7 linked regions of the Homo sapiens genome follow. The protein of the gene in region 2 purifies or fractionates together with the protein of the main gene of each other region. This does not show direct contact. Each region holds a gene or a part of one and is shown on either strand. Other genes may lie near its edges. The genes, in order: CDC42EP1, FCN3, ACSL1, DNAJC3, OAF, PCSK9 and SLC25A25.

The links.
Region 1: the proteins of FCN3 (region 2) and CDC42EP1 purify together in Homo sapiens (affinity purification with mass spectrometry; one large-scale study listed by BioGRID and IntAct). This does not show direct contact.
Region 3: the proteins of FCN3 (region 2) and ACSL1 purify together in Homo sapiens (affinity purification with mass spectrometry; one large-scale study listed by BioGRID and IntAct). This does not show direct contact.
Region 4: the proteins of FCN3 (region 2) and DNAJC3 purify together in Homo sapiens (affinity purification with mass spectrometry; one large-scale study listed by BioGRID and IntAct). This does not show direct contact.
Region 5: the proteins of FCN3 (region 2) and OAF purify together in Homo sapiens (affinity purification with mass spectrometry; one large-scale study listed by BioGRID and IntAct). This does not show direct contact.
Region 6: the proteins of FCN3 (region 2) and PCSK9 purify together in Homo sapiens (affinity purification with mass spectrometry; one large-scale study listed by BioGRID and IntAct). This does not show direct contact.
Region 7: the proteins of FCN3 (region 2) and SLC25A25 purify together in Homo sapiens (affinity purification with mass spectrometry; one large-scale study listed by BioGRID and IntAct). This does not show direct contact.

The regions. Positions count from the first base shown.
Region 1 is NC_000022.11:37,566,559-37,570,266, forward strand, and holds the end of CDC42EP1 (cdc42 effector protein 1), read left to right. Parts: coding exon 1-254; intron 255-1,549; coding exon 1,550-2,262; 3' UTR 2,263-2,847; downstream 2,848-3,708. Other genes in the region: LGALS2 (galectin-2), read right to left, coding at 3,705-3,708. UniProt on the Homo sapiens protein: Probably involved in the organization of the actin cytoskeleton. Induced membrane extensions in fibroblasts.
Region 2 is NC_000001.11:27,371,706-27,376,423, reverse strand, and holds the start of FCN3 (ficolin-3 isoform 1 precursor), read left to right. Parts: upstream 1-1,599; 5' UTR 1,600-1,605; coding exon 1,606-1,696; intron 1,697-1,972; coding exon 1,973-2,068; intron 2,069-2,414; coding exon 2,415-2,459; intron 2,460-2,903; coding exon 2,904-2,936; intron 2,937-3,160; coding exon 3,161-3,288; intron 3,289-4,718. UniProt on the Homo sapiens protein: May function in innate immunity through activation of the lectin complement pathway. Calcium-dependent and GlcNAc-binding lectin. Has affinity with GalNAc, GlcNAc, D-fucose, as mono/oligosaccharide and lipopolysaccharides from S.typhimurium and S.minnesota.
Region 3 is NC_000004.12:184,822,804-184,827,374, forward strand, and holds the start of ACSL1 (long-chain-fatty-acid--CoA ligase 1), read right to left. Parts: upstream 3,166-4,571; 5' UTR 3,113-3,165; intron 2,434-3,112; exon of another isoform or gene 2,363-2,433; intron 1-2,362. UniProt on the Homo sapiens protein: Catalyzes the conversion of long-chain fatty acids to their active form acyl-CoAs for both synthesis of cellular lipids, and degradation via beta-oxidation. Preferentially uses palmitoleate, oleate and linoleate.
Region 4 is NC_000013.11:95,760,280-95,764,274, forward strand, and holds part of DNAJC3 (dnaJ homolog subfamily C member 3 precursor), read left to right. Parts: intron 1-399; coding exon 400-519; intron 520-3,363; coding exon 3,364-3,469; intron 3,470-3,553; coding exon 3,554-3,674; intron 3,675-3,995. UniProt on the Homo sapiens protein: Involved in the unfolded protein response (UPR) during endoplasmic reticulum (ER) stress.
Region 5 is NC_000011.10:120,227,729-120,231,026, reverse strand, and holds the end of OAF (out at first protein homolog precursor), read right to left. Parts: intron 2,160-3,298; coding exon 1,885-2,159; 3' UTR 693-1,884; downstream 1-692.
Region 6 is NC_000001.11:55,056,548-55,060,542, forward strand, and holds part of PCSK9 (proprotein convertase subtilisin/kexin type 9 isoform 1 preproprotein), read left to right. Parts: exon of another isoform or gene 1-258; intron 259-783; coding exon 784-967; intron 968-1,488; coding exon 1,489-1,662; intron 1,663-1,951; coding exon 1,952-2,100; intron 2,101-2,896; coding exon of another isoform or gene 2,897-2,938; coding exon 2,939-3,116; intron 3,117-3,995.
Region 7 is NC_000009.12:128,067,067-128,071,031, forward strand, and holds the start of SLC25A25 (mitochondrial adenyl nucleotide antiporter SLC25A25), read left to right. Parts: upstream 1-1,165; 5' UTR 1,166-1,253; coding exon 1,254-1,514; intron 1,515-3,965. Other genes in the region: NAIF1 (nuclear apoptosis-inducing factor 1), read right to left, coding at 1-35. UniProt on the Homo sapiens protein: Electroneutral antiporter that most probably mediates the transport of adenyl nucleotides through the inner mitochondrial membrane.

The sequences.
Region 1 (3,708 bases), on a different chromosome or scaffold from region 2:
CTCCGGGAGCACCCATCGCTCACCCCGCAGCTTCCTGGCCAAGAAGCTGCAGCTGGTGCGGAGGGTGGGGGCGCCCCCCCGGAGGATGGCATCTCCCCCTGCACCCTCCCCGGCTCCACCGGCCATCTCCCCCATCATCAAGAACGCCATCTCCCTGCCCCAGCTCAACCAGGCCGCCTACGACAGCCTCGTGGTTGGCAAGCTCAGCTTCGACAGCAGCCCCACCAGCTCCACGGACGGCCACTCCAGCTACGGTGAGGGCCTGGGCCATCTTGGCCCACTTTTCAGAGGCTGAGGCTGAGGCCCAGAGGGGTTCAGTGGCTCCTCCAAGCTCCAAGTGAGCTCCAAGTGACCACAGAGGTCAGGCCCAGACCCCACATCATGGATGGGGAGGGGGTGCAGTGGTGGGAACAAGCTGACTCCCCAAAACACCTGAGGTTGAGAGTGAGGAGGTGGAGTTTGAATTCTAGCTGCCCCTCACTTGCTGTGTGACCTGGGCAAGCACATCCCCCTCTCTGGGCCTTAGCTGAACCAGTCACCCACCCATTCTTGCCCCCTTCAACCAAAGCCTTCCCCTCATGTCGGAATGATATCATGGAGAGGTGAAGGGCCTGGGCTCTAGATTCCAATCCAGTTCTGCCTGAATTTCAGGAAGTCAGTTGACCTCTATAAGTTCAAGTCCTCGCCTGGATAATGAGTCTCTCGGGGTCATTGCTAAGATTCAGTGCCAGGAGAGGCGCAGGGGGGCTGATACTTAGTAGGTGCTCAGGACACTGGAGCTGTTGTTATCTGAACTTGGTTTCCTGTAACTCGACAAATTTGGGAAACCACTCACAGGAACCGCAAGCCACAGGCCTTCCTGCCCAGCCAGAAGTGCCACCTTGGCCGTTCGGTCAGAGCTCACCTGAGAACCATGGGCCCCTGCTGCCACCTGGTGGCCACTCCCTGCCTTGCGGGAGTGGCTCTAACACCCCTGCCCCAGGCGGCTGCTCAGAACCGCACTGAGGACTGGTCCACAGAAACCCGATTCTGTCTCAGGTCTGTAGTCCTGGAAGCAGGGGCTGGACATGTCTGTCCTTCATTTCTATACAGTCAGACCCTGATTGCTGGTCCCATCCTGTGTCCACAAACCAGCTCACGTGCTATGGGTTCACCTGCAGCCATCGGCCAGCGTCATGGCAGGGAGCCGGTGGCCATGGCTGAGGTCACAGTTGGGACTGAGAGGAGATTTGAGCTCCAGACTTGATTCCACCTCGTCAGACTTCTATGGCCTTGGGCTAGCTCCTTCGCCCCATCCCAAACTGAGCCTCACTTTCCCCATCTGCATAATGGAAATGAGGATAATGATGATTTTCAGCTTTCGGGGTAGACAGGAAGATCACACAGGTGACCATGGAGTGTATTCTATTGGAAAGATGGGAGAAACCGAGGCCAGAGAGGGGAGGGACTAGCCAGAGGCCACACAGCAAGCCAGGACTGGTCCTGTCTCCCCTCCTGAATTCCTGGTGAGGGACCCCAGCTCTGAGCCCACTGCCCATTTCTCTTCTAGGCCTGGACTCTGGGTTCTGCACCATCTCCCGCCTGCCCCGCTCGGAAAAGCCGCATGACCGAGACCGGGATGGTTCCTTCCCCTCTGAGCCCGGGCTTCGCCGCTCTGACTCTCTCTTGTCCTTCCGCCTGGACCTCGACCTTGGGCCCTCACTCCTCAGCGAGCTGCTAGGGGTCATGAGCCTCCCAGAAGCCCCTGCAGCTGAGACTCCAGCCCCCGCTGCAAACCCCCCAGCCCCTACTGCAAACCCCACGGGTCCTGCTGCAAACCCCCCAGCCACTACTGCAAACCCCCCAGCGCCTGCTGCAAACCCCTCAGCACCTGCCGCAACCCCCACGGGTCCTGCTGCAAATCCCCCAGCCCCTGCCGCAAGCTCCACACCCCATGGACACTGTCCCAATGGGGTAACAGCTGGGTTGGGCCCAGTGGCTGAGGTGAAGTCCAGCCCAGTGGGAGGGGGTCCCCGAGGACCTGCTGGCCCTGCCCTCGGCAGGCACTGGGGAGCAGGCTGGGATGGCGGCCACCACTACCCAGAGATGGATGCGCGGCAGGAGCGGGTGGAGGTGCTGCCCCAAGCCCGGGCCTCCTGGGAGAGCCTGGACGAAGAGTGGAGGGCGCCCCAGGCAGGCAGCAGGACCCCAGTGCCCAGCACAGTGCAAGCAAACACCTTTGAATTTGCGGATGCTGAGGAGGATGATGAGGTCAAGGTGTGAGGGGCTGGGGCACGGTCCCAGGGCCCCACCTAGGTGCAGAGCCGGCCCCTCACCTAACAGCTGGTTCCTACCAGACCGGAGAGGGGAGAAGTCATGTTGCCCCTAAACCCCTCCCCACCTCTGCAGGACAGACATGGGAGGGAGGACAGGGAAGGCCAGGCTTGCTCTGGGACTTTTATGCTCCCAGAGGCCCTGCCAAACTGACCACCTCCCCCGACTGCCACTCTGGACCTAATAGCTGTTCCTTAGGCCCCACTCCATGCCACCCCCACCAGCTGGAGGACCCAGCCTCACAGTGTGTCCTTTGTGCCAGACCAAGCGGCCCGTGGGGGGTGGGGGGCAGGGAGTGTACCACACAGGGCCATTGTCTCACCTCCCAAAGGGACCGCCTGCCCCCAGCTCATCCCAGAGCGTCCCTGCTGCAACCCTGACAGCCGTCTCCCAGGCCGCTTCCCCAACATCCCCGCCCCAGCCTCCCTCTTACCCCAGAAAGGTCAGGTATGACCTCCCGGGGAGGAATCCCACCTGCCTGTATACCCCAGACTTGCCTCTGGGGCCTGATTAAATAAGGCTGTTTTGATAAAAGGTGTCCTGCAAGATGCTTGGGGACCTGGGACAACAGCATCAGCTCTGTCTGCTTCAGTCCCCTCCCCTCCAGGGAGTTTAGAAAGCCAAGGATCCCCCATCAAGGCCCCCAGCAGGGAAGGGAAGTGGACGCGCCAAGGGGAGGGTAATGAGTAACCAGGCTGGAACGCCCCTGAGATAAGAGGCCCAGGTGGGAGCCCTTATCTGCAGTTCCGGGAACAGCCCCTGGCCCAGGTGCCTGGGACTCGTGTCTGCCCCATAATCCCACAGGGCAGCATGGCATTTGCTCTGGCGATAGTGGGGGCAAGTAGACAGAAGCAAGTGCGTAGGACTGTTGGGAGCATGTCTCAGCCTCCCAACATGGCAGCCGGGTGTCCTCATATCTGTTTCCTCCTCAGTATTATGAAAATGCCAGGAGCATTAAAATGCACGGAAAGAGAAATGCCCTCCTTAGGTATCGGAAGACCGGTTAAATTTAGCCACAAACAGCTAACGTGAGGTGGTGCACTCCCTGTCACTACAGGTATGCAACCAGAGGATGTGTGGCAGGAGGCAGGATCACTACGGGACCTCAGGATCCCTGAGAGCAGGACATTCTGGATCATGGGGTGCCTTCATTCAGAGGTCCTCAGACCAGGGGTATCCCATGTTTTTGTAAACTTGAGGGACCCAAGAGAGAAAGGAGTCACAAGCCACAGTTCTTGCCACAGGAAGACTCGATAAAAACAGATTATTTTGTTTGCTTTTAGCCCTGGGGCAGGAACTGCAGGTAGGGATAGGGGAACACACCCAAGCTCTGTTGATCCTGGTGTGACTCGGAAGAAGAACCAGGACAGAGAATCTCGGCTGGAAGTCTTTTAT
Region 2 (4,718 bases):
ATCCTGTCAGGCAAACACTGCCTCCACTTCCCCTGATACCACTTGCACCTCAGCCCTCTCCATAAGCACCAGGGAGGTGCAGAGGAGGCCTTGAGGGAGGGTTTCCTGAATGAGTGAATGAATGAGCCCTGCCTCTCCTCCCTTATCACCTGAGGTCCCTCTCCAGCTCAGGCCTGATCCTTCACATCTGGACCCTGGCTGCTGCGTCCTCCCTGGCTTCCCGGCCTCCAGGCCTTCCTACATGGGCTTCCCGCTCAATTGGCGTACATTAGCAGCTGTTTCCTAAGCCTCACGGGACTCAAGGTTGAGCATGGAGTCACTTTCTTTTTTTTTGAGACGGAGTTTTTGCTCTTTCGCCCAGGCTGGAGTGCAGTGGTGCGATCTCGGCTCATTGCAACCTCTGCCTTCGGGTTTCAAGTGATTCTCTTGCCTCAGCCTCCTGAGTAGCTGGGATTACAGGTGCATGCCACCAAGCCCGGCTAATTTTTGTATTTTTAGTAGAGACAGGGTTTCACCGTGTTAGCCAGGCTGGTCTCGAACCCCTGACCTCAGGTGATCTGCCTGCCTCGGACTCCCAAAATCCCGGGATTACAGGCATGAGCCACCGCAGCCAGCCAGAATCACTTTCTTAATGGTGCTTTTCCCTGGCGGGGGCATGGGGCTTGGGTAAAACTCTGTTGCTCTCAGCATATAAGTGGCCAAGAGAACAGAAGTCACGTCCCATCACTGGGCCTCAGTTTCTCTTTCCTTATTCATTTAACTCTTTCTTACTGAGCACCCATTTTGTACCAGGCCCATAATGCAATAATAAGGATTAATAGCAAGTCCATGTGAGGATCGGAGGTGACGTCAGTATGACGCTGGAATGCAGTAGATGCCCAGGAAATGGTAGCAGTTGTCACTATTCATAGCATTGACAAGGATCAGGGAAGGATTCCCAGTGGAGATGGCTGTAGAGCTAGACCTTCATGGACAGATGGGGCTTCACAGGTAGAGACGACTGTGAATGTAGAGGTCTGGAGAGATGGCTGGGGAGCCCTGGAAGCCAGGATCAGAAGTTGGACTCTTTCAGTGTGCGGTGGCTCACACCTGTAATCCTAGCACTTTGGGAGGCCGAGGTGGGTGGATCACCTAAGGTCAGGATTTCGAGACCAGCCTGGCCAACATGGTGAAACCCCTTCTATACTAAAAAAAAAAATACAAAAAATTAGCTGGGCTTGGTGGCGTGCACCCATAATCCCAGCTACTTGGGAGGCTGAGGCAGGAGAATCACTTGAACCCGGGAGGCAGAGGTTGCATTGGTTGCATTGAGCTGAGAGCACGCCATTGCATTCCAGCCTGGGCAACAAGAGTGAAACTCCGTCTCAAAAAAACAAAAAAACAAAAAACAAAAAACAAAAAGATGTTGGACTCCATCCTGGTTGGATAGGGCAGGGATAATGCCCTTTCTCTCTGGGGCTGAAGGAGGAAATACTCCCACCCCCTGCTGGCTCCAGTCTGGGTGGGGTGTCCCTGGGGGACAATGGGAGGAAGTCTTGTTTCATGTCCTCCCACCAGCCTGGCCCCCTTATAATCTGGCATCCTTCCCCTGGTGGGCCCAGCAAGATGGATCTACTGTGGATCCTGCCCTCCCTGTGGCTTCTCCTGCTTGGGGGGCCTGCCTGCCTGAAGACCCAGGAACACCCCAGCTGCCCAGGTGGGCACCTAGGGTGCCCTCCTCACCAACCCACTCCTCATTCCCTCGCTGGGTGTCCCCCCACCAAGGCTCATCAACCTCAAGGAGCAGGGTGGGAGTTTCATAATCTGGGCTCTGCATGTAAATATATGCAAATGGATGCAAAGCACACGAAACCTTGCCAGCTCAGGAGACAAGCATCCTGACAGTGGGAATCTGGGAGACAGGAAGAGAACTGAAGAGGGGTCTGGAAGAGACAGTCTACCCTGTGCCCACCCTGCCTGTGTCTCCCTGTAGGACCCAGGGAACTGGAAGCCAGCAAAGTTGTCCTCCTGCCCAGTTGTCCCGGAGCTCCAGGAAGTCCTGGGGAGAAGGGAGCCCCAGGTCCTCAAGGTGAGAGGGGCTGGGGAGCGGGCTGGGATCTTGGGAATGGGGAAGGCAGGAAAGTAGCAATTTTTGTCTGTGCTGAGGGGCCACGACAAAGGAGCAAGGAACCTACTCTGTGCCAGCTCCAGGCTGGGCACCCGGCATCCTAAGATCAACTCTGCCAGGTAAGTGGTTTCATCCCCATTCTGCTGAGGAGGAAAGGGAGGTTCAGAGAGGATAAGATATTTGCCCGCAATCACAAAGTGAGTGAAGGGTGAAACTGGGATTTGAACCTCTGGCTCCAAGTCTCTTGTTTCTTTTTGGTCCTGGGCATGGGGTGGGACTCAGGAAATCTCTGCCTTTGTGATTTCAGGGCCACCTGGACCACCAGGCAAGATGGGCCCCAAGGGTGAGCCAGGTGAGTAAGTGGGGCTGGAGGCCTCCCCGCTTTCTTTGCCTCTGTCCCTGGACTCTAGGGTGGGATCTCTGCTTGGCTGCTGTGCCTATGATGGCTCTCTCACAGGGGAATGGATGGCTGGGAGGAGTGGGAAGGATTAGGAGAAGGGCCTGGCTACCCTATGATGGCCCTCCTATTGGGGATGGAGGGCTGGGAGGAGTGGGGAGGATTAGGAGAAGGGCCTGGGTACCCTATGAAGGCCCTCCTACAGGGTTTGGAAGGCTGGGAGGAGTGGAGAGGATTAGGAGAAGGGCCTGGGTACCCTATGATGGCCCTCCTACAGGGTATGGAAGGCTGGGAGGAGTGGGAAGGATTCGGAAAAGGGCCTGGGTACCGGCTCCACTGGTGGCTCAGCGCTGGGGTGCTGAGACATCAGAGCCAACACTCATCCCTTCTCTGGGGCAGGAGATCCAGTGAACCTGCTCCGGTGCCAGGAAGGTGAGGCAGCCCTTGCAGGAGCCAGGAACTTGGGATCACATGGTGTTGGGTGTTGGCAGACCCCCAAGTGTGGCCAAGATCCTCCCCACAGCCTCCTCAGAACCCTTCTTCAGGGACCTGAAGGAGCCAAGAGGGTCCCTAGGGTCCCACACTTGTTCCAGTGCCTGGGGGTGGGGGTCAGGGAATAACCTGGGCACCACCCCAGTCCATCTCCCCTTTCCCAGGCCCCAGAAACTGCCGGGAGCTGTTGAGCCAGGGCGCCACCTTGAGCGGCTGGTACCATCTGTGCCTACCTGAGGGCAGGGCCCTCCCAGTCTTTTGTGACATGGACACCGAGGGGGGCGGCTGGCTGGTGAGTGTCTGAGAAATGGGCTAACAGGCCAGGCCCACTGGTCACTTCTCCCCCTTGGCCCCTAGGGGAGCCAGAACCCACCAGAGCAAGGCATTTCCTAGAGGAATTCACTGACAAATGTTTAGTGAGCCCCCAATGGGACCTGAAGAAGTATGAGGGCTTCACAGAGGAGGTGCCTTTTGAAAAGACCTTAAGTTGAGTGCAGTAGCTCACGCCTGTAATCCCAGCTACTTGGGAGGCTGAGGCAAGAGAATTGCCTGAACCCAGGAGGTGGAGGTTGCAGTGAGCCGAGTTCTTGCCATTGCACTCCAGCCTGGGTGAAAAGAGTGAAACTCTGTCTCAAAAAAAAAAAAAAAAAAAAATAGGGTAGGGAGGGGCATTCCAGCTAGAAGTAAAGATAAACTCAGGGAGGCAGCAGAGTAAAAGGTTTGCAGGGAACGCGTGAGTGAGCTGAGAGCAGGCGTGGGTGTCGGCTAAAGTCTGCCGGCACTGACGGAACATGGATTGAGGACCTCTGTAAAGGCCAGTTCATGGAAGGCACTAAATGATCAACTTAAGAAGTGTGCAGCGCGCCCAGACGCGGTGGTTGGCTGGACGTGGTGGCTCACGCCTATAATCCCAGCACTTTGGGAGGCCAAGGCGGGCAGATCACCTGAGGTCAAGAGTTCGAGATCAGCCTGGCCAACATGGTGAAACCCCATCTTTACTAAAAATATAAAAATTAGCCAGGCGTGATGGTGGGCGCCTGTAATCCAAGTTATTCAGGAGGCTGAGCTGGGAGAATTGCTTGAACCCCGGAGGTGGTGGTTGCAGTGAGCCAAGATTGAGTCACTGCACTCCAGCCTGGGCAACGGAGTGAGACTCTGTCTTAAAAAAAAAAAAAAAAAAGAAGAGTGTGCAGGGCAATGGGTAGCCCCAGGAGAGTTTTAAGCAGGGGAGGGGCCAAGTAGAACTTCTGTTTTAAAAAGATGATTCGGGCTACACCATGAAAGATGCACTGCATTGGGGGACCAGTGGAGGCAGGGACATGGTTTAGGAAGACAGCAAGGAGCCAGGCAGTAAAGACAGTGGAGCAGGCCTGACACAGTAGCTCACACCTGTAATCCCAGCACTTTGGGAGGCCGAGGTGGGTGGATTGCCTGAGCTCAGGAGTTCAAGACCAGCCTGGGCAACATGGCAAAACCCCATCTCTACTAAAAATACAAAAAATTAGCTGGGCGTGGTGGCAGGTGCCTGTAATCCCAGCTATGCAGAAAGCTAAGGCACGAGAATTGCTTGAACCAGGGAGGCAGAGGTTGCAGTGAGCCGAGATCACACCACTGTACTCCAGCCTGGTAACAGGGGGTGAGACTCTATCTCAAAAAAATAAATAAATAAAATAAGACAGTGGAGCAATGGAAATAGAAGTACTTAGGTTGACAACTCTATAG
Region 3 (4,571 bases), on a different chromosome or scaffold from region 2:
ATGTGATAGTTTTCTCTTCTTGCCATTATATACAACCCAAGGCTTGCCACAAACTGAAATTTCTTATGCATTGACATTCAGCATTTGATGTAAAATGACAATCTTAGAGTCGCTGCCACAAACCCTGGTAAAACTGCCCCTGCCTTCTCCAGTTCACTAAGTTCAGCTACTCCTTCAGGGCTTGTGCTCCTTTAAAACTTTTCAGAAGCCCCTTGAAGTACCAACATGTTGAAACTCAAACTCAACTGCCTGCAGCTTCAGATCAGCTCTGGCCACTGAGAATTCTTCTCCAGGCCCCAGTGTCAAAGGCACTTTTGACCATCATGTGTTTGTCTGACTACCAAGTTGGACTGCCAACCTTCACTAAAAACTCCGGCACCTTTATCTACCTCCTGTCAGATCACCGCCTGTCAGAGAGGGAGGCCTAAAAAGGCTTCAGGATATCAACAGCTTTGAGCTGCCTTAGAGGAACTTCTTTTCTATTTTGTAGTACAGGAGCCTCATGCACTGCATCATCCAAACAAGACTCTCCACAAAACATTACTAATGGATTCTAATTGAACAGAGTTTGGTTACAAGAGACAGTAAACACAAATGGGCACCTGTTTTAAATGGCAAACTTACACAATAAATTCAATTGATCTTAAAAACTAAACATTCCTCTAAGGTTACTGACTATAAATATCTAGAAATTACTACTCCTATAGTCTTGCTATTTCCAGACAAGTGAAACTGGAAGGGAGAGAGGAGAAATACCCAGTTATAATGACAAGACAACCTTATCTTTTCTCAAAAGCCTCCCCAAACACACAACCATTTTCCACAAAACAGTTACATCAAAAAAGATGTAGCAAGACCTAGACATTAAGCATGCTAGAAAGTAGGGACAGTTTTACCAGTGTTTGTGGCAGCAACTCTGAGATAGTCATTTTACATCAAATGCTAAATGTCAATGCATAAGAAATTTCAGTTTGTGGTAAGCCCTGGGTTATATATAATGGCAACAAGAGAAAACTATCACATAATCTGAATTACGTTCATTTTTCTGCATACACCATGCATGCTGGTACACTTTCAGTTAGCCTAAACTTCACCCAAAAGTAGAGGTGGCTATGAAAACTCTACCTGCATGGTATAAATAGATACCTAACCCTACATGCATGGGTCACTTGTATCTACCTCCTAAATACCAAAAACTTAGAAGCCCAGATTTCTTTTCAGTCAGGCTGCCTGCGATAACAATAAAAATACTGCCAAAATAGGAACAACAGAGACAGGAAGGAAATATGCCAAAATGCTTATAATTGTGGGGAAGGGTAATTTTTTGTTTTGTTTTGTTTTTTACAGAGTCCTGCTCTGTTGCCCAGTCTGGAGTGCAGTGGCGGGATCTCAGCTCATCACAACTTCTGCCTCCTGAGTTCAAGCGATTCTCCTGGCTCAGCCTCTCGAGTAGCTGGGACTAGAGATGCATGCCACCACGCCTGGCTAATTATTTGTATTTTTAGTAGAGATAGGGTTTCTCCATGTTGGTCAGGCTGGTCTCGAACTCCTGACCTCAAATGATCTGCCCGCCTCGGTCTCCCAAAGTGCTGGGATTACAGTGAGCCACCACGCCTGTCTGGGTAATTTTTTTTTAAGTATTCTGTTTACAGTAAATTCAGAAAACAGAAGTCTTTAATATGTCTGTTTTAAAGGGGAGAGGTATAAGGTGTGCGGCTAACAAGTTTATTTTTCTAGTCGCAGAATTTGGACTCGTGAAAGATTTTAGTCTAATGCAGTTTGTTCACAAATATAAGGAGGGGGGCCTCAGACTAGGGAGGTGTTTTCCGAGTTGAGTCAGAACAAGAAAGTAAGTCTCCCAAGACCTGGTCCTTTTCCACTATATCACACTGCACTGTCTGGCTCCAATCTGATGGCGAGCAATGGTTCCTTAAAAAGCTCCATCTTCTCAAGCCTACCCAGCACAGACCTACAACTCAAACTTTAAGTTTTAGCCAGCCTAACCTTCCACGTCCACTTGAAAAAAGAAAAAAAAGAAAGAAACAATCAACCGGAAGCCTTTGATTTTTTTGCTAGCAAGAAGCCAATAATTGTTTTCTTTGGGACAATCACAGGTTAAGTTGTGAAATGGGTGGCAGAAACTGCAAGATTTAACCAGTTTCTCTCAACGCTAATCAAAGGTCAAGAAAATAAAAGACAGGGCAGTGAGAGTCGCGGGACTTTAGACACTCCTGCACCAAGAAGCTTAAAAGTCTTAGCCAGGGCACTAGAGAACGCTTTTAGAATGGTCACTCTTAATTATGCTCCATAACCTTGAAATTGGACTGAGTGGGGAAGGGGTTTCCACACTCTCACAACGCACCGACTGGGGGAACGCCTGTCCCCAGACTCGAATCCACGTGTCCATTCAAGTCATCTACCGCCACTCTCCGTCTACGCTGCCAGGTGACAGACATCATCTTTGCTTCTCAATTTCAAAAAATGCCAGCACTCCTTAGATCAATGACTCCACGGCCAAGTGCAAGGGCCACGGGCACTCCTCTGGAGTCACCGAGAGAATGTCTGCCTCTGGCAGCGGCCTCTGAGCTGCCTGTGGGCCTCGTGCCGCCGCGCTGCGTGGGGCCGGCATCTCAGCGGGCGCGAGTGCAGTCTCGCCCCACGCGCGGTCCGAACGCCCGCGAGCCCGGCCTCTGGGCAGGCGGGGGCCGCGGACGAGGGCAACGTCAGCGGCCCAGCTGGGCCACCTCCTCCCAGCCGAAGCGCGGCCTCCGGCTGCTTCGCCGGGCCGGTCCCCGCCGCCGCACACACAAGGGTCGGTCCCGCGCGCATCCCCGGCCGCGCACCAGCCCCGCGCCCGCGCCGCCCGCGACTCAGACACAGGAAGCTGCGGCAGCACGGGCACCCCGGAGGCCTCCGGCTGCCGAGGGAAGCGGGGCCGCGGGCAGGAGGCCGGAAAGGCGGCGCGGCCCCACGAGCCTGGGGTGGCTCACGCGCCTCCGCGGCGGCCGCTGCTCCGGGCTCGGCCCTGAAGGGCAACGTCAGCCGGCGCCTCGGCCGGGGCCCGGGCACCGCCGCGGGAGCAGGCGCGGCTCCGCACGGCGGGCGCACTCACCTCCTCCGTGGACCGGCCGCTCCGCCGCCGGCTGTCACTGCAGCCCACTCCCTGCCCCGCGCCGGCTCTGGATGCTATTTAAGGCGCCGCTGGCGCCGCCGCCTCGGCCCGCTGGTTGCGCCCCCGCCACCGCCGCGGCTGAGCCAGGATGCTGCTGGTGCGCTCGCCGCGCCGGCCCCGCCCTCCCGCGGCCCCGCCCCGCCCGCAGGCCCCGCCCCCGGCAGGCCCCGCCCCGCCGAGCGCCCGGCCGCCCTCCTGTCTGGGCGCGCGTGGCTGGCGGGTGGCCGGCGGTCGAGAGGCTGCGGCGGGCGAACGCCGCTGGAGTCGCCCAGACTGCCTCGGATTTCATAATGAATCTGAGGAAGGACAAAGGGTACATTGGACCGCCTCAGCTCAGAGGCCCCGCGGACCCTGGGCCCCGCGATGCCCGAGGGGCGGGCGGCGCCCTCCGGATCCTGCACCCTCAGCCCGTGCCCCGCTGGCCTCCTGGCAGGCCGGGCAGAATTCTGCTGCGAGGGCCCTGGAGGCAAGGGCCTTCCTCTCCGTTTTTCCTTGACACTGACGGGCGCGGCCCCACAGGGTTTCCCCCACGCTCCCTGGCCGGAAGACCTTTTCTGTCTGGTGTCTGCAGAGCCTGACGTGGGCAGCGCCCGCAGCTCGCGCCGGTGCAGGGGAGCTGAGGGCCGACTGCGCGCTGCACCACGGCGGCCACCTGCTGTGCGGTTCTGAGGGCTTCCGCGGTTCTGAGGGCTTCCGCGTCCCTGCCATGCCCATCTTGGGGCTTCAGAAGCCAACACGATGGTTTTCGGGCTCACATCCCAAAGGCTGCTCTTCCTTTTAGCACCTGGGACCTACCAGGAACCTCAACCTCTAACAACATTGGTCCCCGTTACCGTGGAGTTTGCGCCCAGCGTTCGCTGGAGGGCCGTTTGAAGAATGATTGTTGTCGTAAAGGCCTTTGATAATAATAGATACTGTTTACCCAGTGCTTGATGCCAGGCATTGCTACAAACACTGCGTACACATTATTCTATTTAATCTTCATAACCCAGTGAGGTAGGTACTGTCATTACTGTCCTTTCACAGAAGAGGAAGCTGGGGCACAGAGGTTAAATGCTAGTGAGAGCAGTACCACACTTGGCACTCAGGCTGCCCCCAGAGTGTGGGCACAACCAACGCAGGGCTATGCCTGGGCTGCAGGCAGGGGAAACTGACCGTGGTTCGCTCCAGGCCTCAGCCACACTGCAGTTCACTCCCACAAATAACTGAAGGACTTTCCCTGGGTGTCTCCCACAGTGTGCTGGGCGCAGTGGTGCAGTGGGGTGAGGACAACGCACACACCAGCAACCTCTCTAGCAGCTCAGTCCTTTTAGATCTCCATCTTCCAGATCTAGAAAAAATGGACTCCACGTTCGTTTTCACTGGTTCCCGCTTGGCTAATCCCTGGTTTTTCTGTCCA
Region 4 (3,995 bases), on a different chromosome or scaffold from region 2:
CATCTTGTTTTAACATTTTAATATTAAATTAATAAGATGATGGTAGTTAAGGCTGTTTTTATATTGTATATCCATTTATATATTTTGTGTTATTCCCAAGTTACTTTAATTCCACATAGTTTGTTTTCATGAAGCTGCTTATTAAACAGGAAGGCTCTTATATTTATAGAAACAAAATGGAATGTTTACTATATAATGCTAGTAAGTCATTTTAATTTGAATTAACAAATGTATGCATGGTACAATGCCACGTATAAATGTATATAGTAAATTATAAGTCTCAGTATGGTTTTTGTTTAATCGTTGCAAACAAAAAATACTTTTATTGTGATTTCTGTGGAAAACTACTCATTGATTGTTTTGACATGGAGTATTTTCCTTTTTTAAATACATGAACAGTGAAGTTCGGGAATGTCTTAAACTTGACCAGGATCATAAAAGGTGTTTTGCACACTATAAACAAGTAAAGAAACTTAATAAGCTGATTGAGTCAGCTGAAGAGCTCATCAGAGATGGCAGGTGAGAATATGGTTGTTCCAACTGTCCAGCCATTCCTTATGTGCGGGGCTGTGGGCACAAGTGAACTACAGAACTGCTCTTTTACTTCTCAGCCATTGAGGGTGGGGTATTCTAGATAGCCCTGGGCCTTAGCAAAACTACCAGAATTGGACATTTTTGGAATAGGGAAGAATATAAATAATAGTAACTGTGTAGTATCCTTACCAGCAGAATTACTTGTACTATACCAAATATTTATTATCTCCTATATCAGGCTGAGCTATGTACTGAGGGTGCAGACTTAAACTTGACAATAGTTTTTGTTCTTAAGAAGTTTATAGCATTGCGTGGGAGACAAATATATGAATTGATTATTAAAAGACAATATGATACCAAAGTGATAGAATGTACATAGGATAATTGGAGTACCAAAGAGGAGTATTTACTCCAAACCAGGATGGTAAAGGCAAGGAGTAAAAGAGGAGCTTTTTTTTTTAGAGAAGGTGATAGATATTTAAATCCTAATCCTAAAGAATAAGTAAAAGTGGACAGAAGTAAGAGGCTGTGTCTGTGTGAGTGTTGTTTGTAGGGGGTTTATAGGCTGGGCAGGAGGACTGAAAAGAGTAGAGGGCACTGCAGACAAAACTGCCTAATAGAAAATAGGCTCCAATTCCTCTACTTTTAGTAGCTTTGTAAGTTGCCATCATGAGAATGCTTCACTCGGTTTCCCCCAACATCTTGCAGACTATAACGCCTTGCAAAACTATAGTACATTGTCACAATCAGGATATTGACGTGGGTGCAGTCAAGATACAGAATAATTCCATCCCAACAAGGACACCTCATGTTGCCCTTATAGCCACACCTACTTCCCTCTTGTTCCTATCCCTTCCTTAGCTTGTGGCAACCACTAATCTATTCACTTGTAGAATTCTGTCATTTTAAGAATGTTACATAAATAGAATCATACAATGTATAAACTTTTGGGATTGGCTTTTTTTTTTTTTGAGACAATCTCACTATGTTGCCCACCTGTTCACAGATACAGTCATAGTACACTCAAGTGATCCTTCTGCCTCAGCCTTCTGAGTAGCTGGGACTTCAGATGCATGCTACCACAGCTGGCAGGATGGGCTTTTTTCCCCCTCATTCGAATTGTCTGGAGATTTATCCATATTGTATCAATAATTCCTCCTTGTTTACTGTTGAGTAGTTTCCATGGTATGGATTTACTGCAGTTTGTTTAACCATTTATCCATTGAAGGACCTGAGGTTGGGAGTTTGAGACCAGCCTGACCAACACGGAGAAACCCTGTCTCTACTAAAAATACAAAATTAGCCGGGCGTGGTGGCGCATGCCTGTAATCCCAGCTACTGCGGAGGCTGAGGTGGGAGAATCGCTTGAACCCGGGAAGTTGAGGTTGCGGTGAGCCGAGATTGTGCCATTACACTCCAGCCTGGGCAACAAGAGCGAAACTCCGTCTCTAAAAAAAATGTTTTCTGTTTGCAAGTCTGTCCTTTTCAGGTCCTCTGGCTAGACAGAGCAGACTTCTGCAGGTTTTTGTTATTGTCGTTCTGTACCTGTTGGCGTTTCTGCATTGCTGGAATCTTCAGCTCCAAGTCTGGGATATATGAAACAAAAAAAAAGAACCCAGGGAACGTCTTACCATGTTTTCCTCAGGTCCTGAGTCACTAGCTAGTCTGTCTCTTTTCCTCCTTTGAAAGTTTTCTATTTTAAAAAATATACATATAATCTCTAGGGTTTTTTAGTTGTGCTTAGCTGGAGCACTTGGGACAAATACATCTATTCCACTTTCCCAGAAGCTGGCTTTTTTGTTTTCTTCTTTAAGTTCCAGGATGTATGTGCAGAATGTGGAGGTTTGTTACATAGGTAAACGTGTGCCATGGTGGTTTGCTGCACCTATCAACCCATTACTTAGGTATTAAGCCCCACATGCATTAGCTATTTGTCCTGATGCTCTCCCTCCCCTTGCTGCCTGCCCCACACAGGCCTCCGTGTGTGATGTTCCCCTCCCTGTGTCCATGTGTTCTCATTGTTCAGCTCCCACTTATGAGTGAGAATATGCAGTGCTTTGTTTTCTGTTCCTGCGTTAGTTTGCTGAGGATGATAGAGAAGCTGGCTTTTATTTTAAATGTTTTAGTTAAGCCTGTGTTTTAATACATTGGCATATTTACATATGAAGATTGTAGCACTTTGGGAATAGTGTGCCACCATGGCATAGAAACATATTTTTTACTTTACTATTGTTGAGGGAAATAACTGAGTATATAACAGGATTAGTACTTTTTACTGGTTTAAAGAAAATGCTGAAATAGCTTTTATTCTTAGAAAGCTTATACAGTTGGGAATTTAATCAGGTACCTTTTGTGTGAACTACGTTGTACTTTGTTGTAAATACTGACATTAATTATATAAAATGGCACGTAATGGGTTCCATTATTTTCATGGAAGTGTTTACTGACCAAGAAATAAAACTTGATCTCTGTATTGTTCAAGGTGCTCAGTGTAAGTCAGACTTCAACAGGGTGTTTTACTCAGGTTTGGAATTCTGAGCAATGTTTCTGTAAGGAAATTCTTCTGGTTTGATTGGTACTTATACTCACAGGTATGCTTTGTTCTGTCCATCTGCATCTCCTATGGTCATATGTTTTTATTTCCTAACTCTTAATTATGGAGTGTACCTTCTATGGGACTCTAGATTAATAAGGGAAAAGCCGAATCTGAAGCCATGGGCTCATCCAATTGGATTGATTAAGCAACACATGGTGAAGAGGGGAGGAGCCTTTCTACAGCTCTGGAAATCAAATGTCATCATTTCTTATCATGATTTGCTCATTTCTTAGATACACAGATGCTACCAGCAAATATGAATCTGTCATGAAAACAGAGCCAAGCATTGCTGAATATACAGTTCGTTCAAAGGAGAGGATTTGCCACTGCTTTTCTAAGGTAACAGTTGACTTGTTCCCAGAAATGTGAAAACTCAACATGTGGAATACCAACCATAAATCCTTGTCTCACATTTCCTTTTAGGACGAGAAGCCTGTTGAAGCTATTAGGGTTTGTTCTGAAGTTTTACAGATGGAACCTGACAATGTGAATGCCCTGAAAGATCGAGCAGAGGCCTATTTGATAGAGGAAATGTATGATGAAGGTAAATCTTTAAGGATTTGATTTGCAGTACCGAAGTGTTGATTAGGAAATTATCACATTTTAAGCTTCCTTTTCCTTAAAACAAATTTACCAGAGTACCTGGAAATGTTGACAATTTTAGAAAAATGGCAGAGAACTTGAAAATTACTCTTCCATAGTGGAACCTGAAAGGTATACCATGTGAGGAAAGAGTTCTGCCATTGAAACCAGTTCAGTACAATAGAAAAATAAATATTTTAGCTTTTTTTGTAGAAAGGAAAAAAAATAACAAAATAGAAAATTTAAATTGTAGCTCTCATGTTATCCGGAAGTAATCACTGTT
Region 5 (3,298 bases), on a different chromosome or scaffold from region 2:
AGAAAGGGAAGGAGAAAAAGGACTGGGGGGTGACTGATGGGACAGCTCCCTCCCCATCCCCCAGCAAGGCTGAGCTGGTCCTTGAAAACAGGTTCAGAAGGGAGGTGTGCCCACCTGAAAAGGTTATCTCCCCGCTGACCCTCAGCTCAACCAAGGCCAAGCAAGCCCAGCTCCCTCAACCCTCTGGCCTGCATGAGTTCAAGGGGCAGTTGCAGCCTGTTCTGGGAGTTCTGGGAGCAGAGTAAAGGGGACCACCCTGCAAACCCCTTCCCTCGCCAAGGCCTTCAAGGAAGGATCTGACTGTCCCCATCTCTTCCTTGAGAAAGTTGGGTCACCTGGGGAACCCATGAGACTCTTCCAACCCCTAAAACACTCCTGCCTCCACCTTGCCAAATCGTTACCATCTTCCAGCCTCAACCCACACCCCAACTCTTCCAGAAAGCCTTTCCCAATACATGCAGCCTGCACATCCCTCGCTCTGGAACCATCCAGAACCCTGCCCGGCACTTCCTATTACAGCCTCTTCATGTTGAAAGATACTTTGGAAGTGAAGAGCCTTCCAGATGTCTGATTTCATTGAGTCAGGCTTATAGCTGCAGGAATGTCTGCTTTTTTCACTAATAGTAATGATACTAAGAATGGCTAACAGCACTATGTGCTAGATGCTTGACATGCAAGAATTCACTTCGGTCTCTTAAGTAAGCTCATTTTATAGCTAAGGGAGTGGAGGCACAGAGAGGTCAAGCAACTTGACCCATGGCTGCACAGCAGGTAAGTAGCCGAGCCCAGATCTGAAGCGGGGTTCCAATCTCCACCCCATCTCTTGCCTTCGCGCTGGCTATTTCTGACTGGCTTACTACGGTTGCAGCTATGTCTGTCTCATTGTCTTGGGTGCAGAAGTTTTATCTCATCCTTCCCTAGTAACATCTTCCTTCTCCTCCTTCCTTCCTCAAATGGCTGAGCACACAGTAGGTGCTTTCGAAGTTCTTGTTCCAAGATAGGCCACTGCTAGGGTGTGGGGACACTTTCTGACATCAGGTGGCAGCATTGGCCAAAAGTTTTCTCCAAACTCTGGGTCTCATTAGTCAAGTAAAAACTTAAAACGTTTATTTCTGGTAGAAATGATAAATACTTTGCACTAAAAATCTGGAATTCAAGTTTTCCTCGTACTTCATGCTCCCTCCCTGCCCCAGAACCTTACAAAAATATTTCTGTGTAGAGAGGGAAAGAGCTGGTGCCTGCTCTGGAGGCAACGTCCAGGTCCGGGAAAGGCACTCGTGGTCTGTGATCTGTCTCAGTGATGGGAGGTCTCCACTCGCCCCACAGGCAGCCTCGGGGCCAGAGATGAGAATATGCTGTAATCCAGTACAGGGGCTGCGTCGTGGGTCCCCAACAGCTCCTTCTTTGGGGATAGTGAGCCCCTTGTTGGGGAGTAGGAAGGGACTGAGGGGCCAGCTCCTTCCAGATGTGTGCATGGGGAAGGGAGTTGTGTCTGGGGAGGTGGGTGTCCAGGTATAGACTCCTTTTAGGGTCTAAACGTTCAAGGAGTTCAACAGAACAACCAGAGGCCATCATGTTTTGGCAGCTTGCAAGTGAACACTCCAGGGGAGATGCAGGAGGGAGGGGTGTAGATCTGGGGAGCCCTTCTCTCCCTCTCTGCCCGCAAGGAAGGCACAGGGTGGGAATGGGGGTGCCTTCATGAGACCCCCTGCCATGCCACACCCCCTTCACAGTCATGTGAGATGGGGCCAGAGGGGCCCAGGCTCTAGGGCCAGGGGAGTGGGGAGGGAGGGAAATAAGGCCTCAGGTGGGGGTTGCCACCCCCTCTAGTGGCTGGTGAAGAGCAGTGGGCCCAGAGCAGCCACCCGCCAGGTTGCTCCCACCCTAGCCTGGGTAGGGATCCTCATCCCAGAGACACAGCTGCCTCTGGGGCACGTAGAAGTCGAAGCTGTAGCTCTTCTGGCAGCTGCGGATGCCACACTTGTAGGGCGTGGGCCGGTCGCGGCTGTGGCAGTACTTGAGCATGCAGGGGTACCAGGCCAGGCTCAGGCCATAGCGGCAGACGCAGGGCTTCCCGTGGTCCCCCACCTGCCTGCAGCGAGGCAGCTCCGCCTGCTCTGAGGCCTTGGGCAGAGCCTCGAACACAGAACTGTCCACACCTGGGGGAGAGAGGCAAGGATCAGGGAGGGAGGGAGGGAGGGAGGGAAGGAGCTCCCCTAGTCAGAGGCCGCTGCCATTCCCCACTTGGTCTCCTCTGTCATCCCACAGGCATTTACAGACACCTCCATTTCCAAGCTTGCCATGGGACACAGAGGTAAGACCTGGTTACTAGGCTCCTCCTTGCTGGGCTCGTGGGAGAAACAGATTAAATAGGAATCACCCTCCTCTATGGCATCAACTGTGTGCTACGGGCTCTACTTACAGTACCTCCATCAGTCACCCCATGGGCTAAGTATCGTCATCCCTGTTTTAGTGATGAGAACATCGACCCAGAGTTTAATGATCTGGCCAAGGTTTCAAGGCCTCCACTAGACCACACTGCCACCCAATGCTTTAAAAAATCACCATACCGGAGTGTGCTGAGATAGAGGCGTGGGGAGACAAGGTTGGAAGTCAAGGAAGGCTTCTTAAAAAAGGTGACATCTGGCCGGGCACAGTGGCTCATGCCTGTAATCCCACTTTAGGAGTCTGAGGCAGGTGGATCACCTGAGGCCAGGAGTTTGAGACCAGCCTGGCCAACACGGTGAAACCTTGTTTCTACTAAAAGCACAAAAATTAGCTGGGCACAGTGGCGGGCACCTATAATCTCAGCTATCCTGGAGGCTGAGGCAGGAGAATTGCTGGAACCCGGGTGGCGGAGGTTGCAGTGAGCCGAGATCGTGCCATTGCACTCCAGCCTGGGGGACAACAGTGAGACTTTATCTCAAAAAAAAAAAAGTGACATCTGAGTAGGGCTAGGCAGAGAAGGGCCAGCAAAGCACACCCACAGTGGGGCAGGTCAGGTCAGGGTGGCCAGGGCTTGGATCAAATGGGAAAGTGTGCATATTGGGGCGCTGGAGGAGACGGAAGGTACCGGCCTGATTAGGCTCAGGGGCTGTATGGGAGGGGCCAGCTTCTGGAGGACACTTATGTCAAGCTTGCGGCATAGTCTGGGGTGCAGGCCATGGGGGAGGGTGTATGTGTGTGGGGGGCAAGACCACAGCTTGGTTGGGTATTTCTAAATCTGGGCCTGCCCTGGGAGGAGCAGGCATTTCACCAGTGCTCAGTTGGCTGGCAGAAGGCACAGGGGCTCAGAGTT
Region 6 (3,995 bases), about 28 Mb from region 2:
TCTGCCCAATACTCTTTGGGCCTCCCTGTTGTCCAGCTCTCTCCGCGGCTCCATGACTGACAACTTGAGCAAGGCTAATGTGAATGGGAGCGGTTGAGGGCTCAGACCTCTCACCCGAGGAACATCCACAGAGTGTGCCGCATGCCCGGTGCAGTGTGGCTGCGGGGACACAGACACGGAGCCTCGGCCCTGAGGAGCTGGGGGGCAGTGACCGTCCCTCCTCTGACCCACCACTCCTCCAGTGTCAGGACACTGCGGGTATCTAGGGGAAGGAATCTTGTTCCACTTCAAGTCTGGAACTTCAAGTCTGTGTGTGTGCGTGCGCGCGCGCGCGTTGGGGGTGGGGGTTGCAGAGCAGATGCGTACCTGACAGCGGTAACCTAGGTCCCCCCTGGCCTATCAAGGCTTCCCTGGCGGCCGAATTTAAAGGCATCAAGCAAACAAAGCCCAACACATCTCTGCCTTGTCCTCTCAGTTTCCCCCCGTGGCACTTAGAACCACTTGATACACCGAATAGTTTCCTATCTCCCCCACTAGGATGTAAACTCCACAGGGGCATTGGGAATGCTGCCTGGCTATGGTAGGGACAGAGGGGAGCACCAGGGCGGGGCAGGGGTGCCAGAGTTCTGCCTGGGCAGTCAGATTTTCCTTAGGAGGGGACATTTGAGTGGGACCCAAACAGGTGTATAGCAGTTGTCCAGCCCAGCTGGCAAGGCCTGAGTCTGCCTCTGCAACCCCTCTCTTGGGCTCCTTTCTCTGCCACCCACCTCCTCACCTTTCCAGGTCATCACAGTTGGGGCCACCAATGCCCAAGACCAGCCGGTGACCCTGGGGACTTTGGGGACCAACTTTGGCCGCTGTGTGGACCTCTTTGCCCCAGGGGAGGACATCATTGGTGCCTCCAGCGACTGCAGCACCTGCTTTGTGTCACAGAGTGGGACATCACAGGCTGCTGCCCACGTGGCTGGTAAGTCACCACCCCACTGCCTCGGCCACCGTGATGCTAACAGCCCCTTTGGCAGTCAGGGTCTGTGCCGGGACCTCCAGTGCCAGGCTCTGTGCAGGGGGACCAGAGATGAAGTAGGCCTGATGGTGCCTTCAAGGACACTCAGTCTGATGAGGGAGGCGAGTGCACAGAGGAAACACGAGGTCAGGGCTGTATTAGAGGGAGCCCAGAGGAGGCACCTGCCCAGCCCGAGGGTCAGAGAAGGCATCTTGGAGGAGGGACATTTGATCGGGAGCTTGATGGATGAATAGGAGTTCACCTGGCCGATAAGACAGCAACTACCAAGGCTTAGAGGTGTGAGAGGAGGCTGTCTTACCTCACTGAGTAAGGACTGCAGGCGGCTTACCTTCGAGAAGAGAGCTTAGTGTCTGTGTGCACGTGTGTTTGTGTGTATGTGTGTGCGTGTGTGCACTGGCAGGAGTCCCCTGCTGGGGCAGGAGGGCCGGGCCATCACCATCTTTCACCATTCACCCCTGCACCAGGCATTGCAGCCATGATGCTGTCTGCCGAGCCGGAGCTCACCCTGGCCGAGTTGAGGCAGAGACTGATCCACTTCTCTGCCAAAGATGTCATCAATGAGGCCTGGTTCCCTGAGGACCAGCGGGTACTGACCCCCAACCTGGTGGCCGCCCTGCCCCCCAGCACCCATGGGGCAGGTAAGCAGGATGGCAGGGTGGGCAAGTCCAGGCTGGGGCTTGGGAGGTCTGTGTGACCTTGACAGTCTCTCCCTTCTCCCTTGTCTGTGTAAGGAGGATGACGCCACCTTAAATAGGATTAAATGAGAATGGGGCTCTGAAAGGGCTGTGCAATATTTTCATAACGTGTTTTTATAGAGACAGTTGAGTATGTTCTTTAAGCCCTCCTCTCTCCTACCATGAACTAAAGATTTCTGTGGAGGTCCCCTCACTCCCAGCACCCCCTCCTCATCCCAGGCCCTTTTTGCAGGTTGGCAGCTGTTTTGCAGGACTGTATGGTCAGCACACTCGGGGCCTACACGGATGGCCACAGCCGTCGCCCGCTGCGCCCCAGATGAGGAGCTGCTGAGCTGCTCCAGTTTCTCCAGGAGTGGGAAGCGGCGGGGCGAGCGCATGGAGGTGACTGTACCCCTCCTTCGTGTGTGTGTGTGTGTGTGTGTGTGTGTGTGTGTGTGTGTGTGTGTGTGTGTCAGTGCTGGGCCCTCAGGGACCCCCAGCAAGCCCCTCCATCCTCCAGACTCCAGCTCTTCTGTAAGCTTACAGGGCTGGCCAGACCAGGAGTGGGGCACTCCTCACTTCACGCGGCTGGGGGCTGCTGGAGAGAGCCACAGCGGGAAGGGTTTCCTAGAGGCTGCAGGACAGTGCTGGATGGATTTTCAATGCTCACCTGGGTGTGAGCGTGCGGCAGGGCCGCGTGAGGGTCAGCGATCTGCTACTCTGGACTCAGCCATCTCTAGGCCCCTCTCACTCAGGTGCTCCATGGTTCTGGGAGCTGAGAAATCTCAAACCAGCAAAAAAGTGGAATTGATGTTGATGCTACAGGATAGTGCACAGATGCCATCTGGTTGCAGCATTTTGGTGGAAGGGCAGTGCCCAGCTAGGAGAGTGAGGAGGGGCAGGCATTTCTGGCTTGAGGAGATGGGGTCTTAATGCTCGTGTGAGAGGCAGAGTGGGTGGAGTGGAGCTGGCTGGATCCTTGCTTTGGCCTCCTGGATTTCTCTCTATCTCCATTTTGAAACCACTCTGTGTTTGGAAGAACTTTTGAGTATTCAGAGCTGCCCACTGGCAGAACAGTCTTCCTTGGGCAGGAGTGAGCTCCTTGTCCCCAGAAGGCTGGGTCTGGCTGGCCCCTGGCAGGGACACTGATGAGGGTGCTTGAGTTGATCCTGTCTAGTCCCTTTCTGTGTTTTCAAAGCCCATTCTAAAGCAGATTCCCATTTCCGTCTTTGACTCTAAGGCCCAAGGGGGCAAGCTGGTCTGCCGGGCCCACAACGCTTTTGGGGGTGAGGGTGTCTACGCCATTGCCAGGTGCTGCCTGCTACCCCAGGCCAACTGCAGCGTCCACACAGCTCCACCAGCTGAGGCCAGCATGGGGACCCGTGTCCACTGCCACCAACAGGGCCACGTCCTCACAGGTAGGAGGCTGGGCTTGCCCTGGGGTGAGGAGGGGTCTCTTTCTCCTTATGCACCCACTGCCCGCGAGGCTTGGTCCTCACAAGTGTGATCCATGAGACTCAAGCCTGACTTGCAGTTCCATACTCTGGTTCTGCCACTTCCATGCCCTTTGAGCCTGGGCAGGTGACCTTACTTCTCCTCATCTCAGCTTCCTCCTCCATAAGAGGGAAAAAGGTATTACCTGCCTCATTGTGTTGCAAGGAGATGGGCAGCATCTAGGGCACTGGCCTGGAGTATCGCAGGTGCTTTGCCTAAGGTGGTGCAGTCCAGGAGAGGCAGCTCCAGAGAGAGGCCCCCGGCTGGGGCTGAAAGGAGGGCAGACCTCGGTTTGAATTTCACCCTGCCGCTCTATAGCTGTGTGACTTGGGCAAATTACTTAACATCTCTGTATGAGGAAATGATGAGTGCTAAGCACTTAGCTTAGTGCCGGGACAATATAAATTCTAGCTATCGTTACTATTGTTTTCATCACCCGTTGCTTTAAAATCCAGCCTCTGGTATAGGCAACTATTGACGGGCTACCCTGTGTCGAAAACATGCCCAGGCAGGTAGCAGGAAGTCACAGATGGGGACCTCTTGGGGCATCAAGGGATGGTGCCCTGAGGCTGAGCTGTTCTGGTTGGGTGGAGCATGAGAGGTCTGGGAAGACAGTGGGACTCCAGCCTGGAATAAGAGGCTCAGAGTTGATTCTCGTCTGAGCACGTCCAGGGGAACCACTGAGGGTTTGGGAACAGGAGAGTGAGGGTGAGAACCTGGTTCTGGGCACAGCAGGCTGGCATGTAGGATGGATGTTCAGGAAAGATGAGCATAGTCAGGTGGCTGGTGCCCTTGTCCAGGGG
Region 7 (3,965 bases), on a different chromosome or scaffold from region 2:
AAGTTCATCTTCCTTTTCTTGGCTGGGACGGCCATGGCCTCTCCCCTCCCCTCTTTTTAAAGAAATTATAATCCCCTCAAGCGCCCCAATTCCCCTTCTCTTCTTCCTCAGCCTCGCCCCTCACCCACCCCCTACAGGGGATAGGCCAGGCTTGCTCGAGGCCAAGCACTAGGCCTTTGGTAACCCCCCTCGCTACGCAAAGTGCGTAGGGCCCAGCCCCGACCGGCCCGGCCGCTGCCAGCCAGCAGCGTAATGGCTTCCTGAATCTGCCTCTTCCGCCGAGGTGTGCGGAGATCCGCCCACTTCCCCTCTTCCCGCCTCCCAGCGCTTCTCCGGGAAAACCGGCCTTCCCGGTTGGTAGCTGCTCAAATATCACGTCGATCACTGGTTCTTTCGATCTGTCGCTCAGCTAAAGAGCACGCCTGCTTACTGTAATTCGCCTGATCATTGGTCTAAAATTGTGTCCGTCGCCCAGAGGGCCCCGCCCACCTAACCTTTATTCACTTCCATTGGAAAATCATTCTGTCGTTCAATTGTCAGTATTACGACTATTAAGCCGTTAAATTCAGCTATTTTATTGGTGGTTTAGGGAGTTAGATTACCAAAACCCTGCTTCCTGAGGATACTTAGTGCTTTCGGCCGTGACCCATGGGTCAATTAACTTTTAATTCCTCCCACCGGCACAAACTCTGCCTCGCAACTGCAGTTCACAAATGCTCTCACACAAATCCTGTTTCCCACTGGAGGCTACGATCTCTCCGTACACTACCGCTCCTCCCATCCTTAAGATCCCGCAGTCTAAACAGAGTTAGTTCATCAATGGAAACTGGACACGGGGCCTTCCGCCTGCCAATCACATTACTCATGCCTATCGCTGCGTGATTTTCTCTCTCTTGGCCCCCGGCTCAGCCAATCCCCGCCTCCCTCAGTTTGAATCGGCCCCAGGCGGAGCCGGGTGACCCCGCCCACCCCATTGATCCGGGTAGTCCGTGGCGCGTGGGCTGTCCTTAGACAGGCTCCGCCCCTCCCTCCTCCCCATCCGAGCCTGTGACTGGCCTTCGGTGCGCCCGGGCGTGGCCGGCGAAGCGGGGCGCGGAGGGGCGGGGCTCCCGGAAGCCGCCCCTTCCGCCAGCTTGCCGGCGTCTCCGAGCCCGCGCTCCCAGCTGCAGAGCGCCTGGCTTGCCTCCCGCGCGGTCACCGCCGGCCCGCCGCCCCCGCTCCCGCCCGCGCCCGGAGCCCCTGCCTCGCGCCCGATGGTGAGCAGTGTGTTGTGCCGCTGTGTGGCCTCCCCGCCGCCGGACGCCGCCGCCACCGCCGCCTCTTCGTCTGCCTCATCGCCGGCGTCCGTGGGGGACCCCTGCGGCGGCGCTATCTGCGGGGGCCCGGACCACCGGCTGCGCCTGTGGAGACTCTTTCAGACGCTCGACGTCAACCGGGACGGCGGCCTGTGTGTCAACGACCTGGCGGTGGGGCTGCGGCGCCTGGGACTGCACCGCACCGAGGGCGAGCTCCAGGTAGGCTGCGCGCGTCCTCAGCACTGGCGGGGAGGGAGCCCCTCGAGGGCCGGGTGACAGGTCTCGGGGGACGGCCCCTTGGGCTGGGCGGAACCCCCACTGTCCAGAGGAAGGGTGCCCCCTGACTCACTGAGGGACACCCCACTTATGCCCTGGTGGGAGCGGGGCTCCTTCCTGACTTCTTTGGGTGCTTGAGCCGGGTTCTTCGTGGACACAGGTGGGCATCCTATGGGCTTTCTGATGGGCGAAAAGCCCTTTCTTGCCCAGAGTAGAAGGCCAGGTCTCAGGAGTGTGCCTTTGTCACCTCCTGACCTCAAGGCCAAGCTGGACGCTCCCTTCACCCAAGGATGGGTTCATCCATCAGTCCCCAGCAGCACCCCCTCCTTTCCCTCTCGTTTCCATGCCAGCCGTGGGCCCTGATCTGGTTCCTCTCAGGAACATGTGGGAGTTGAAAAAAAAATTGGTATTGGGGTTTCAGGCTGATCCGTGTGGACGTTGGCGGCGAAGACTGACAGTTCTCATGGTTTAGGCTCATCTCCATTGCCCTGTTTATCCAGAAAATGGGATCGTGATCCCCGCGGGGTTGGAGTGTGGACGGAGTGAAAGAATCCGGGGGAAATTTTTTTTCTAAAAGTCAAAGCGAGATTGTTACTATTGTGGGCTCTTGGCCGAGGTGTGGGCATAGGGGCGCAGAGAAATGGTCATCCCTGGGCCTGCCAGGAAGAGAAGTGCTGGCCTTTCTGTATGAGAACCTCAGAGCAGAGGCTGTTTCTTTCCCTTCTGTCTCTTCCCCCTTCAGTCTGACTTGGCGGGTGTAGCTGCCATTTTCCCAAGTATTTCATTTACTGTAGCTTAGCCTGATTTACAGCCTGGAATAGGACTCCTGAGTACTTTACCTAAGAACCTGTTTCACTGCTGAGTTAGTTTGGTCCATTTGTACACATGACAATTAGAGAATCTCGTAGCCAAGTATGAAAAGAATCTGGTAAACCGCCAATGAATTAAACCAATTTGTTGGGTGGGTGTACATAGGTGTTGTTAACTCATGTTCAAGATTCTTGGATCAACATCCAAGGTATTTAGCGCTAACTATTAGGATCAGCCTAGGAGGACCAAGAGTAACACTACGCAAGATAGAATGGTTAAGTCCAGGAGATTTAGAGACAAGTTTTTTTTGTTTGTTTGTTTTGAGACGGAGTCTGGTTCTGTCTCCCAGGCTGGAGTGCATTGGTGCAATCTTGGCTCACTGCAGCCTCCGCCTCCTGGGTTCAAGAGATTCTCCCGCCTCAGCCTCCCCAGTAGCTGGGATTACAGGCATGTGCCACCACACCCAGCTAATTTTTTTTTTTTTTTTTTTGAGAGAGTCTCACTCTGTCACCCAGGCTCGAGTGCAGTGGTGCGATCTTGGCTCACTGCAAGCTCCGCCTCCCGGGTTCACGCCATTCTCCTGCCTCAGCCTCCCTAGTAGCTGGGATTACAGGCATGTGCCACCACACCCAGCTAATTTTTTTTTTTTTTTTTTTTTTTTTTGAGACAGTCTCACTCTGTCACCCAGGCTCGAGTGCAGTGGTGCGATCTTGGCTCACTGCAAGCTCCGCCTCCGGGGTTCACGCCATTCTCCTGCCTCAGCCTCCCTAGTAGCTGGGACTACAGGTGCCCGCCACCATGCCCAGCTAATTTTTTTTTTGTTTGAATTTTTAAGAGAGATGGGGTTTCACCGTGTTAGCCAGGATGGTCTTGATCTCCTGACCTTGTGATCCGCCCGCCTCAGCCTCCCAAAGTGCTGGGATTACAGGCATGAGCCACCGCGCCCGGCCACCCAGCTAATTTTTGTATTTTTAGTAGAGATAGGCTTCCACCATGTTGGCCAGGTTGGTCTCGGGCTCCTGACCTCAGGTGATCCACCTGCCTCGGCCTCCCAAAGTGTTGGGATTACAGGCGTGAGCCACCGCACCCGGCTAGAGACAGGTTTTTTTTGTTTTGTTTTGTTTTGTAATGTTTCCAGTCAGTTTTACACAAAATAGTGTTGTGAACTGGAGATTTTCCTGTATGTATCTGATGAATACTCACTTGAAAAGGTAGAATGGCTGGCCGGGCACAGTGGCTTACGCCTGTAATCCCAGCACTTTGGGAGGCCAAGCCGGGTGGATCACCTGAGGTCAGGAGTTTGAGACCAGCCTGACCAATTTGGAGAAAACCCGTCTCTACTAAAAATACAAAATTAACGGGGAGTGGTGGCGCATGCCTGTAATTCCAGTACTCGGGAGGCTGAGGCAGGAGAATCGCTTGAACCCGGGAGGCGGAGATTGCGGTGAGCTGAGATTGCACCATTGCACTCCAGCCTGGGCAACAAGAGTGAAACTCCATCTCAAAAAAAAAAAAAAAAAAAAAAAGAAAGAAAGAAAAGAAAAAATAGGAAGGCTAAACCCAGAGGGTTTCTGTTTCTGCTTT